Linked DNA regions of Homo sapiens. The protein of the gene in region 1 interacts with the protein of each later gene in a pairwise test. Each region holds a gene or a part of one and is shown in the gene's direction. Other genes may lie near its edges.

Evidence for each region. Proteins that work in one complex are often made in the same cells at the same time.
Region 2: the proteins of COP1 (region 1) and ETV1 interact in binary tests that used the Homo sapiens proteins (3 or more experiments, as listed by UniProt).

Annotation. Positions count from the first base shown.
Region 1 is NC_000001.11:176,197,265-176,204,292, reverse strand, and holds part of COP1 (E3 ubiquitin-protein ligase COP1), read left to right. Parts: intron 1-7,028. UniProt on the Homo sapiens protein: E3 ubiquitin-protein ligase that mediates ubiquitination and subsequent proteasomal degradation of target proteins.
Region 2 is NC_000007.14:13,930,651-13,937,678, reverse strand, and holds part of ETV1 (ETS translocation variant 1), read left to right. Parts: intron 1-1,782; coding exon 1,783-1,971; intron 1,972-5,929; coding exon 5,930-6,177; intron 6,178-7,028. UniProt on the Homo sapiens protein: Transcriptional activator that binds to DNA sequences containing the consensus pentanucleotide 5'-CGGA[AT]-3'. Required for olfactory dopaminergic neuron differentiation; may directly activate expression of tyrosine hydroxylase (TH).

The DNA of each region.
Region 1 (7,028 bases):
GTTTTATTTTATCCTTAGAACAATTCTGTGATGTTATATATAACTTATTTTTAATACAATACTAATTATTTTCTCATTGAGGCACAGAGAAGTAATTTTGTTTGTCGTTGGACAGGTAAGGACAAAATGAGAACTCAGATTTCCCAGTTCTCAACTTTGTGTTTTCTTTGTGTGCAATTAGAGAGTTTCAGATCTGTAAGTTCGAGTACATGTATTTAGCCCAGTGGTTCTTAAACGGCACAGATTGGAGGAGAAGCAGCTGTTTCATAATCATATGAGATAAATGTTTTATCCCTCACCACTCCCTTTTCTTACCTGCCCACATCCCAAGAAGACGTACCTGAATTGGAGGCTGGGGTGGGTGGTGTAATTTGCATATGCTCCCCTGGTGATAGGGACCTGTCCTTCTCCCCTCCTTGAGAACTGTTGATTTAAATAGTCACGTACCTAATTTCAGTAATAAACATTGGCCTCTCCTGACTTATATTTGAAAGTAAGTTTATATTTAATTGAAGAATTCATAAACATTTTAGGGGTTTAGGTTGCATTTTTATATTTTATTTTACACAAAAGATTGAAGGTATTATCAAGTTGAATAATTTTAACAGTGTTTTATTGATGGAGAATCTAATACAGGACAGTAGTATTTAGCTTGACATTGGATACATTTTCAACATTCAGAGGAAGTCTTTGTTATTTTGTTTTTTGCAAAATTTTCTTACGGTTCATTTAACTAGACTGTGAGTCTGGTCTGTATTTGAAAGATGACTTCTGTTTTTTATACGGACTCCTTTTTTAAACAATTCTATAACTACTGCCTTTGTATTAGCTTTTCCAGCTATCTCAAATGAAGTTTTCTACCTCTGCAAGTCCCAGCCATTCTTGCAGCAGAAGTATACGTTTGCATGTAGATAGTAAGCTCTTTATGAGAAGGTTGACTTTTTTTCTTTTTTTTTGAGACGGAGTCTCGCTCTGCTGCCCAGGCTGGAGTGCAGTGGTGCGATCTCGGCTCACTGCAAGCTCCGCCTCCCGGGTTCACGCCATTCTCCTGCCTCAGCCTCCCGAGTAGCTGGGACTACAGGCGCCGGCCACCCCGCCCGGCTAATTTTTTGTATTTTTAGTAGAGGCGGGGTTTCACTGTGTTAGCCAGGATGGTCTCGATCTCCTGACCTCATGATCCGCCCGCCTCTGCCTCCCAAAGTGCTGGGATTACAGGCGTGAGCCACCGCGCCCGGCCGAGAAGGTTGACTTTTAATCATCTGCTTGATAGAAAATAGTTAGGATCTACATTAAATAGATCTACCATTCAGTAAATATGTGACTGCCTATTTTGTGTTAAACTAAGATTCTCTCTTCTTAAGGAGCTCATGATTTAATTCGAAGAATGGCTTTTAACTGTGTAATTATAATATCATAACCTGGTATCATTGCCTCTCTTAGTGTCATGACAGATGTTAGTACCATTCCTTTTTCTTAGTGCCATGGCAGATGTTAAATACTCTAATGGACTATGCATAGTACAATATATAGCCATTACCTATTAATTACATTTTAGCACTAAAAATGAAGCCTGTTGACCATTCTTGTTAATATAACTGGTTTCCAATTTTTTTTTTCCTTTTTTTGAGACAGGGCTCTCCCTATGTTGCCCAGGCTAGTCTCAAACTCCTGGGCTCAAGCAATCTTCATGTCTTAGCCTCTCAAGCAGCGGGGATTAGAGACGGGTGCCACCACCTGTAATCCCAGGATATTTTTAATAGTCTGAAAAACACGTGGCTCTGTTTTTCAGACTATTAAAAAGTGAGGGTGGGCACCTTGGTTCACGCCTGTAATCCCAGCCCTTTGGTAGGCCAGGGCAGGAGGATTACTTGAACCCAGGAGTTTGAGACCATCCTGGGCAACATGACGAAACCCCATCTCTACAAAAAATACAAAAATTAGCCTGTGTGGTGGCTTGTGCCTGTAGTCCCAGCTACTCAAGAAGCTGAGATGGGAGGATCACTTGAGCCTGTGAGGTCGAGGCTGCAGGGAGCTATGATCACACCACTGCACTCCAGCCTGGACGACAAAGTGAGACCCTGTCTCCAAAAAAAAAAAAAAAAAAAAAGTGAACTAGAACGTATCATAGAATCTGTCGTAATAAAGACAGTAACAGTTTGTGCAGCAATGTATGTGGAATGTATTTCTCACTGGGTACACTGGTAAAATTTTTTTTAAAGTCACTGAATTATAGGACTGAATTTCCTCTGATAGGAAAGTGGAAAGTTTAAGTGACTTTTCTTTTTAGACCATTGTGAGCTTATAAATATAGGACTAAATATAATTTAAAGAGCTGTTAAAAGCATGTTCAGTTACTGGAATAAACCAGCATTTATTATATTATTATAGTAATATCTGTCAAGAACTTATTTGAATCTGCAAAAGTCAAACTTGATGCTTCTTTTGCTTTATAATACATGTGCCATTTGGATGTCAATGATGAAACATACTCTGCAGGAGATGATGTCATATTTTATCAGACCTATTGGTACTGTCAGACCTGTGGACTATCAGATGGTGGGGCATCAGCATCAATGGTAGCAGGAGACTTCTATGGGTGAATTAAATGGTAGAGAAAATAGATGATCATGAAACAGGATAGGAAGACTATTAACTTGGAATTGTAGTCTATAAATTGAGAAGAAGGTACTTGTGCAATAGTAGTTCATTACTAAAGAATGTGTTGATAAGCAGTTATCTTTTCCTTTTACAAATCTTTATACCTTTTCTGATAATGAGCCAACATTACATAGGTGGATATGTTCCATCTAAGAACTGTTACTGATTAAAGTAACTGTAGCCTTAAACCTTGTTGCTTACTTTTCCTTCTTGTATGTGTATGTTTTTTCTTAATGGTGATTTTTTCATATTTTATATAATTATTTTAACCTGCTACCCTTTTCCTCAGAAAACTTCCACAGCTTGGGAGGAAAGGCTTTTTTGACGGTGGAATTAGCCCATCGTCTTTTTCCTGTTAAAATTTGTATTACAGGGTGAGTATCCTCTATCTGAAGTGCTTGAGACCAGAAGTGTTTTGGATTTTAGGGGTTTTTTTGGTTTTTGTTTTCGAATTTTAGAATATTTAAATTATATTTACCAGGTTAGTATCCTTAATCTGAAAAATCTGAAATCCAAAATGCTCCAGTGAGCATTTCCTCTGATAGTCATGTTGGCACTGAAAAAATTTTTGATTTTGCATGATTTTGGATTTCAGATTTTCAGATTAGGGATATTCAACCTGTATACCAAATAAAATGTTTTTTAAGTTGGGCATGATGGTGCATGCTTGTAGTCTCAGCTCCAGGAGTTTGAGTCCATCCTGGGCAATGTAGTGAAACTCTGCTAAATTGTTTTTAAAGTTCTTGATCTGTTTTTATATGTGATGTTGTATGTAGGACAAAATTCTGTAAGCATTCAGGTTTTTGTGCAGACTTGTCTTTGCCCTCCACCTTACTTGTTCTTTGTCCTCTTTCTTTATGTGTGTATGAGCCAAGTTCTATTCAGATAGGTTGGTACTTTCTCAAACAATATATTCACTGAGAGTAACATGTTTTTCTTTATACTTAAAATATGTTAGTTGTCCTTTCATTTTTCACAATTAAGTTTTATGAACTGATTTTGCCTCTGTTTCTATATAAAGTGAAACATAGAATGCAGTAGGTGATCTGATTTCTGTTTATTGTATTTCTGGTGTAACCATTGGGAATCCATCCTTCTTTCCTAATCTGTGTGGTTTGGGGTGGTACATTTTTTCCCCAAATTCAGAATTGGAACACATGATCCATGCTCAAGTGTCTAGTGCATTGGAATCCTCTGTCTTTAGTATTAATTCACAGATGGGCATTTGGCTCTAAATAGAGATAATGAGACAAAGTAGGCTTTGTAAAAATTACGACTGTTTTGGGGGTTCTTTTAGATATTTGAAACTCAAACGTTCATAAATGCCAAGTCCACTCAAGTGAAGATGGAATGTGTTGTACTGACAATTAGTTTGGGACAAATACTCATAATAATAAGTGCTCAAATATAAATTGCTATTTGCCAGGCACTATTTTAAAGGTTTTACGTTACTTGTTTAATCTTCACAACAACTGTTTGCTGTAGATACTCTTATAGTTCCCATTTTGTAGATGAGGAAATGTGGCCCATAGAGGTTATATAACTTGTCTCAGTTACACGGTTAATAATGGTGGTACCAGTATTTATATTCAGACAATTTGGCTCAGAGGTCAGGTTCTTAACCACTATTACAAATGGTTACCCAAGTTAACCACCCATTTCCTTGCCTTTATTTAGAGGCTGATTTTGTTTAAAATTAGCTTTACTAAGTTATAATTTGCATAAAATAAGTCACTGGTCATAAGTGTGTAGTTGAATGAGTTTTGACACATGAATACACCTGTGCAGTCACCACCCTAATGAAGATATGATACATTTCCAGAAAGTTCACTTTTGCCAGCACTTCATACTCTGTGTCTACCTTCACACCTAACACCTGGCAACCAGTGATCTGCTTTGCATTGCTGTCATTTTGCCTTTTCTGGAATTTCATATTAATGGAGTCCTTTAGTCGGTAGTCTTTTGTGTCTGGTTTCTTTCGTTTGGTATAATGTTTTGAAATACACTGATGATGTTGAGTGTACTGTTTTTTTTCTTTTAATTGCTTAGTATTATCCCATTATATGGATATAACATGAACTGCTTATATATTTGCTAGTTAAAAGATTTTTGACTTGTTTCTAGTTTTTGGCTATTATTTAGAAAATTCTGTAAGCATTCAGGTTTTTGTGCAGACACGTCTTCACATTTTTAGGGTAAAAATATCTAGTAGTGAATTGCTGAGTTCTCTGCCAAGTGTATGTTTAGTTTTAAAATAAACTGCAAAACTTTTTAAAAACTGCCTCTACCATTTTGCATTTCTTTTTTATCTTTTTTTGAGATGGGAGTCTCATACTGTCGCCCCAGCTGGAGTGCAGTGGCACGATCTCAGCTTGGTGCAACCTCTGCCTCCTGGGTTCAAGCAATTCTCCTGCCTTAACCTCCCGAGTAGCTAGGATTACAGGCGCCCGCCACCATGCCAAGCTAATTTTTTGTATTTTTAGTAGAGATGGGGTTTCACTGTGTTGGCCGGGTTGGTCTCGATCCCTGGACCTCATGGTCCCCACGCCTCGGCCTCCCAAAGTGCTGGGATTACAGGTGTGAGCCACCACACCCGGCCACCATTTTGCATTTCTACCAGCAACAATTAAAAGTTCTTTTATTTGGTTTGTATTTATTTCTTGTATTGTTTTATTTGTTTTTAATTGTTTCACATCCTTGCCAGTGCTCAGTGTTTTCAGTCTTTTAAATATTAGTCATTTTTGTGGATATGTAGTTTTATCACATTGTTATGTAACATATTTTTATGTGCTTATTTTTCATTTGCATATCTTTTGTGAAATGTCTGTTTTGATCTTTGGCCCATTTTTTCCCTTAAAATTGCATGTCATCTTGCGTTGTAAGTGTTCTTTATGTATTCTGCATACATCTTTTGTCAGACCTGTGTATTGTGGTATTTTCTCTTAGTCTGTTGCTTATCTTTTCATTTTCTTAATAATTTTTTAAAGTGCAAAAGTTTTTTCTTTTTTCTAATGTATCGATAAAGTTTTCAGTTTTAAGTCCAAATTGATTTTTATTATTTTTAATTTTTGTGTTCTAGCTAAGAAGTTATCTAACATGAAATTAGAAAACATTCTCTTGTATATTTTCTACTAGAAGATTTATAGTTTTCTTATGGTTATGATCCACTTCAAGTTAGTTTTTATACACTGTGTTTGGTAAGGGTTGAAGGCTTCATTAATATTATAACATCATTTGTTGAAAAGATCATCTCTGTTCATTGAATTTTCTTGGCACCTTTCTCAAAAATTAACCATATATATGAGTTTATTTCTGCAATTTTTATTCTGTCCCGTTGGTGTATATATGTTTATCCCTACACAAGTGCCACACTGTTTTGATTATGGTATTATTATAGTACATCTTGAAATCAGGTAGTGTAATTTTTATCCTTTATTTCAAAGTTGTTTTGATTATTTATGTTCTTTGCATTTCCACATAAATCTTAGGATTAGCGTGCCAATTTCTATAAAAAAGGATGTAGGATTTTAATGTTGGTTACTTTGAATCTGTGATTTCATTTGGGAAGATGACATCTTAATATTATCTTTTGAATCATGAACATAGTATATTTCTCCAATTATTTAGGTCCTCTGTAATTTCTCTTAGCAGTGTTTATGCTTTTCAGTTGAGGTTTTTCACCATATTTTTAAAATTTACCCCTAAGTATTTTATGTTTTTGATGGTGTTCTAAATGTTGTTCTTTTAATTTCGATTTCTAATTGTTGCTAGTATGTAAATACACTTTTTTTATGTTGACCTTGTATTTTATGAAATTTTAAGTTTACTTACTAGTTCTAATAATTTTTTGGTAGAACCTATAGGATTTGTAAGAAAACAGTCATGTTATCTGTATATGAATATACTTTTACATCTTTTAAATTTATATGCCCTATTTAAAGAACGTACGTTAATGGATTTATTTGATTGGGTAATTGTTTAAAAGGATTTTTTGGACCTTTATTAGTGAGTGATACTGGTCTGTGAATTTCTTTTAATTTTTTTCTGGTTTTCATATCACAGTGTATTGGTTTGCTTGGGCTGCCGTAACAAAATACAACAGACTAGGTGGCTTAAACAACAGAAATTTATTTTCTCATAGGTCTAGAGACTAGAAGTACAAAACAATGTGTAGGCAGATTCGGTTTCTTCTGAGGCCTGTTTCCTTTCTTTTTTTCAAAAGAGGTGGTCTTGCTGTCTCGCCCAAGCTGGAGTACAGTGGCACCATCACACTGCTTACTGCATCCTCGAACTTCTGGGCCCAAGGGATCCTCCTCCCTCATCTTCCTAGTAGCTGGCTCTACAGGCATGTGTCACCACACCTGGATAAT
Region 2 (7,028 bases), on another chromosome or scaffold:
GTACTGTGTATCCACAGCATAATTATTTAACATATTGAGGAATTTCTAGTCAATGGCAGTTAGATATAGAATTGTCATTGCCTTTCAGCATTAATCAGAATTGTGACTGTGAAATCATCACTGTTTTATATGCCATATCTGACATCCACAAATCAATAATAAAGGAATTGCCTGAATATTTTGTGTTTCTTTTGGGGGATGAAAAGTCCCCACAGTGATATATGGCATATGCAATAAATTCTGGTACTTCCATCGCTATACAGAAAATATTATTGAGTACAGCATTTCATGGGGGAATAGTATCATTTGTTTCTTCATTCATGAGAATGAGTTAGGTGAACCATTTCACAAAAGAAGTGGGTTTTTCTTCAGAAATACTGGTAAAGAACATAGGTGGAACCAAACATGCAATTCATTATATGAACACTGTTGACTTTGCTTTGAAGCAAGAGCTGCCTTGTGCAGCATATATTCCTTTACTCCTTGTAAAAGATTTTTGCAGCTGGATATAATTCCGTTGCATTGATGGAGCAACAGAATAAATTATTACATAATTTAATTCAAAAAGAAATATTTCTTTCTAAAGAAAAAAGTGTACTGATGATTGCTTTTTATTTTATTTTACTTATTTTTTTTTGAGACAGGGTCTCACTCTGTCAGCCAGGCTGGAGTGCAGTGGCACAATCTGGGCTCACTGCAACCTCTGCCTCCCGAGTTCAAGCGATCCTCTCACCTCAGTCTCGTGAATATCTGAGCCTACAGACATGCATCACCACGCCCAGCTAATTTTTTGTATTTTTAGTAGAGACGGGGTTTCACCATGTTGCTCAGGCTGGTCTTAAACTCCCGTGCTTAAGCGATCCTCCCACCTCAGCCTCCCAAAGTGCTAGGATCAGGGGCATGAGCCACTGCGCCCAGCAAAATGAAATACAGCATTCTAACTTAGAAATGCCCTGTTGTTAAAAAAAATTTAAGAAAATTTAGTTTTAGTAAAATATTTTATAGATGACCAAAATTAGCTAAATCACATTCCTGAAAGTTACACCTAGGAAAGCAGTTTAAAATCATAATGTAAAATCAAGCTTACTCATTTTATTCTTCTGTAACTGTGTTTAGAAGTTAGACTATAATAGGATTTTATTCCTAATGACATTATTTTTTACTTATTCTCTAAGAAAGTTTAAATATATCAGACATTTTAATTTACCTCATTAATCTTCATTATCCCATGTGGGGAAGTTAATGCCAAGCATCATTTATTTAATATAATAAAATGAAAATAAAGTAAAAGCATTGCCTTCTTAAAATCCCACCACAAATAAAAGCAAGCCAGGTGTGGTCTCTGCCTTATTAAGCTGATGTTAGTTCTTGTTTTAAAATCTTACATAATATAAAAGAAGAATATAATATCAGAAGTATTTAATGATTTAGGAAAGATCTATCAAACTTTCTCAAATAGATATATCAAGAATAGATGGAAAAAATACCACTGCTTTTTTGGACGTAATTTTCCCTGTACTAAGTTGTTTGTATATGCATTAAAAATACACATTTAATATTTGTTCTGTTACAAGGTTTTGCATTAATCATCCTATTTTCTGTTTAAGGGTGTTGTGATTTTGAAGTTTATCTGTTCTGGATTTAAACAACAATAGCAACAACAAAGTTTTCATTTCCATTTGACTTAAGTCTAAAATATCTTTTCTTCCTTTGGATTAGAAACTTTTTTAAAAAATTGCTCCAAAGAAAGAAATGTTCTCTCTTCTTTTGTCCCCTGGGTAGTGCCTATGATCAGAAGCCACAAGTGGGAATGAGGCCCTCCAACCCCCCCACACCATCCAGCACGCCAGTGTCCCCACTGCATCATGCATCTCCAAACTCAACTCATACACCGAAACCTGACCGGGCCTTCCCAGCTCACCTCCCTCCATCGCAGTCCATACCAGATAGCAGCTACCCCATGGACCACAGGTAACCTGCAGATACCAGTTTTCTAGAAACTGTTTTTTGCGTTCTTGGAAAAAATTTCTATTAACAATTCTGAAGGCCTAGAGTAGATTTAAGGTGAGCCTATTAATTTTGCACATCTGTGCAAAATATTTTTAGAAAGAGCTCACTCTATCTATACTTATAATTTGTGGAGAAAGTCATTTATAAACATTCCTTTTATAAACATTTAAATTGGTTGCTAAAATGGAAAATTAATCTATCTACTGACATTTGAGCATTTCCCTTTCGCTTTGCTTGAATTAAATTGCTTCACTTAAACTTTAAATCAGATCATCCCATTTTTATGAGCATATGTGTGTACTTGTTCTGTAAAGTTAGGAGACTAATTTTAGTAGGTAGCTTATGGAATTAGGTTTTCTACCTTATATTGAATGGTTCAGCTGTACATAGTTTTGCAGAATATAACTTATTTGATTAAAACTGTTGACCATCTTTTCCAGGTGATTAATATTTAATATCAGTAGACGCATGACTCTGGACACTGCGAATATACAATTAAAGAGATAGAGACTCAATTAGTATTACTTAGAAAGGAGCAAGGCAAGAAGCATAGCATAGATCTAAGGAGAATACTGCGTTAGGTAATTCATGACTCCTTGAGATTAAGAAATTCATATTTAAGTAAAATACTAAATAAAACCTGTAGAGGTTCTGAGATGTACTACCTTAATATACAGCTTAAAATCAGGTTGCTTATATACAGCATCTCTCCTTCTTTATCTCTTCTGCCCTGTGCTTCTGTATGCAGTGGCGTGCTGGTAAATGTTTAGCAACAGCCTGCATGAGAGAAAAACAAAACGCCCTCATCAGTAGCTTTTGCTGGGTCTGTGATGTACATATTGCTTTCATGGCCCACTACGAGCCATCACTGTGAGAACCCTGAATGCCGAGTTGCAAAGATGCAATAGCACAGCGTAATGTAGTATTTCTAGCATACGGATACCAGAGACATAAGTAACCTCAGGTGTATAATTGGTAATGAAATGTAGTAAGATAATTAGAAAGTGATGAGTTTTGCATTTTTATCTTCTGTTTTTAACATATTTTTTGATTGTGAAGTTATATAATTTAACTGTTAATAGTGGCTGTGTTTAAGAACTGGCTCAAAAAATTCCTGCAAGTTTGACAATAAGTCAGTGCAAACTGGCCCTGAGACACCGTTGTAAAAATAACTCAGCCAAAGGAATCTTCTAGATCAGCAGAGGAAAGCAGAAGATGTGCCACTGGCAACTTTCTGAAAATAAGGGAGCACTCAAATGTGCTTTTTATAGGTTTTTTCATGGGACTCAATCTCAAATTCAGAAACTCATTTTGCTATAAAGGGCGTAAGATGAAAGCGTTCTTTACAATGTGATACAAAGCCTTGTCTTTTCCACCCTTGGTTCCATCACTAAGTCCTCTTGTGGGGTAGTTATTAAATGCTTCCTATTATCTTTTTCTTCTCACCCTGTAGCCTTGAGACTTTGTCAGAGTGCAATGGTATGTGCATCTGTGTAAACAGTTTTGTAAATACAGATGAAAGAATTCTTATTGCAGGGTGGGCCATTAAACAGATGGACATTGTGCAGAGCTGAAAGGGAACAAAAAAATATGAACAAACCAAGTTTTATTTTCTCCACTACTGGTGACTTCTGAGTTCTTGATAACTGAATCTCACTCTTCTGATCAGTGCCAGAATTATAGATTGTATAATTCGCTTTTTGTGCAAACTGGTTATTTCTTAGGGAAGGTGCCTGCTGAATAAGCAGTGTGCCTGGTTTTAGGTGACCTAACTTGAAATGCTTTAGCCAAATTCATTTTAGTTTCTCTACTTGAAGTCAGATATTTGAGACTGAGAACAGCCGGCCCGGAACTCCAAGAGGGAAGCTCGGGGTCTTTTCCCACTGACCCCTGACTGAGTTTTGAGGACAGTACCAGCTGGCCAGTCCCAGGAAAATCTCTAAAGCCGTATGTTTCTGAGGAGGATTTCTTAGAGGGCTCTGGCCAACAAATGACAGTCCCTCAGTTATAAATGGCAAATTTGCTCTGGGAACAGATCCTTTCCCCAAAACACCCCCTCCAGCCAGGCACCCCACTTCACTCTGGGAATGCTTTACGGCCAACTGGCCTGCACCCTGCTTCCTTTCCTCAGCCTCACTCTGCTCCTGGGGCCAGCCCTTTGGCACTTTTTCCTGAACCCACTGTGCAGGAGCCCTGTCTCTCTTTCTCAGTGTTTCCACCACTTACACCCTGTTTTTCTTTATCTGGGAGTTCATCAGCATGTTCTCCTTATCTGTTAACTCCTTTCCAGAAGCTTCTTGAATCACTTTCTCTTTACCATTGGTCAGTGGCTCCTAAGAATTGCACCAAAACCTTGCAAATTCCTGAGAAGCATGCGTGTTTGATATATACATGTTCCCCAGCAACTTCCAACTGGAATCAGGTCGACTCGTAAAAACAAATGGCTTGATTCCTTACAAAGCTTTCAGTTACAAGTATTATTAACTTCCTTTTAAGGCTTCACAAGTGAGCCAGTTTCTTATTTTAACTTCAAGTTACAATTTTCTGATTCACTCCTTGACAGTTCTTAATGATAATTTCTGTTTCTTTTTTTGGCTAATGAAATAAGCAAGAGAAGGGAAATGAATGCAGTGCCAGTCAGCCTAACTGCTCTGCAATATCCGAGTTTCTAAGTTTATTTTCTGCAGGTGTAGGTGGAATTTCAGTGCTTTCCATGACCACCAGTGAGCCTAGAGTTAAATCACAGGATGGAGTGTTCTTAGAAATGCTAAAGCAATCGCTTTGCCATTCTTTAGCTTTTACCTTATTTTTATTTAACATTACCGAAATTAAATGCTAACTTTCCAAATTAAAGTCTCAGGAATGCTTTTAGTGGGGGGGTTATTAGGCTTATATTTGCTCATAGAAATGTTTTATAGGTTATTTTTAAGCACTCCTGGGGCATTTTTAGAGCACTTTTAAATCTTTAATTAATCCACATCTTTGTGGTGGGTCAATGATATTATGGATGAGAAACACAGAACAGAACGATTATGTGATTAGCCAATTGTTATAAAGTATAACCAAGAACAAAGAGGCATAGGACTCATTTCTAGCCTTCTGCTGAGGCCTCAGAACTTCCTCATGTCCTAACAGCGGGACTTGCCCCAAACCTATACAACACTATATGTTATTTTCACCTTTGGAGATCAGCTGTGCATTTATGCTTATTTTTATCAACCTGATACTGTATTTGAATCTATTGGAAGCCAATATGGTCTGCATTGCTGTTTGACAGTAAAGAGGTAGTCTTTTTACAACCGGCTTGGGTTTGAGTCCTTATAATACCTAGTTTTGTTTCTTACTAGAACGCAATGTTAATTAGGACATTGTTGAGGAATTGAAAGTCCTGATTTGAGAAAAAAGTCATTCCTCTCTTGCTTTCTCAGCAGGTTTTTGGTTGGTTGGTTTTTTGTTTATTGATCAGTTTGGTAACAGAATTAAAAGATAGAGGATGCAGTTTGAGATCTTTTTCTGGTATATAATGATTTAAGAATCTTGTGTGGAAATTATCCGTGATCCAATTGATTTAGAACTAGGCATTTTAGCCATTAATCGTTGTGTGTGTGTGTGTGTGTGTGTGTGGGTGTGTAAAATCCTCAAAGTTTTTCATTGCTCTCCAATCCTTACTCAAAGTACATCTTTAACTCATATACTGCAACAGTGCTGCAAAAGACTGATTAGAAAGGGAATATAAGTCATATGATTAAAAAACATAGAGCTACTAATCCAGGAAAGAAAAACGTAATGCTTGTTAAAGATTTACGCTTCAGGTCAGCTGGTATCATGTTCGTTCACTAAGAAATGGAAAACCGTATCCGTATTTTAAAGAATGTTCCATGTTACCGTTTCATCTGAAACACACTCTCTTATTCCCTAGATTTCGCCGCCAGCTTTCTGAACCCTGTAACTCCTTTCCTCCTTTGCCGACGATGCCAAGGGAAGGACGTCCTATGTACCAACGCCAGATGTCTGAGCCAAACATCCCCTTCCCACCACAAGGCTTTAAGCAGGAGTACCACGACCCAGTGTATGAACACAACACCATGGTTGGCAGTGCGGCCAGCCAAAGCTTTCCCCCTCCTCTGATGATTAAACAGGAACCCAGAGATTTTGCATATGACTCAGGTAGGCCTGCGCTCTGCGCAAATTACATTCAAGGCACTTTTTCACCTCCCTTGTCACATTGGTTAGTGTTGGTATCAGACTAGGTAGCTCCTGACCATTTTTTAATAAGATCTTTCAGATTTTGTCCGTTCATTGAAACTTCATCTACGTGTAAAGATTTGAACTATCAGGTCATTTTGACATGAGGTGATGGTTGAAATAGTGTCTGGAAACAAAACCAGTTTAAAGAAAAATACACTTTACAGAATTATGCACAGTCTCAGCTCGAGAGGGACATTGCAATTTTTTTTCTTAATTCTGTACTTTTTTTTCTTCTTATTTTGCTACTACAGTGCTACTTAATAAAAATGTTTACAGAAAGTAATATTCTTCTGAACTAGGTCACATGTTGCTTATAACATTTAAGAAAAAATTACTGGGGTCCCGGTGCAGTGGATCACGCCTGTAATCCCAGCACTTTGGGAGGCTGAGACCGAGATCGAGGCCACCCTGGCTAACACGGTGAAACCCCATCTCTACTAAAAGTACAAAAAATTAGCCAGGCATGGTGGCACGTGCCTGTAGTCCCAGCTACTCGGGAGGCTGAGGCAAGAGAATCGCTTGAACCCGGGAGGCAGAGGTTGCAGTGAGCCGAGATCGCACCACTGCACTCCAGCCTGGGTGACAGAGAGAGACTCCGTCTCAAAAATCTCAAAAAAAAAAAAATATATATTGGTGGCAAAGATTCTAAGTGTTCGTAAGTAAGAATTCTTACATATTAAGAGGGGAATAACAGATTATTCGTAGAGTTTAGCTTTGTCTCTGTGAGCTAGAAAGTAGTACAAAGCAGCGGGTCAAGTGGGGGAGTGGGG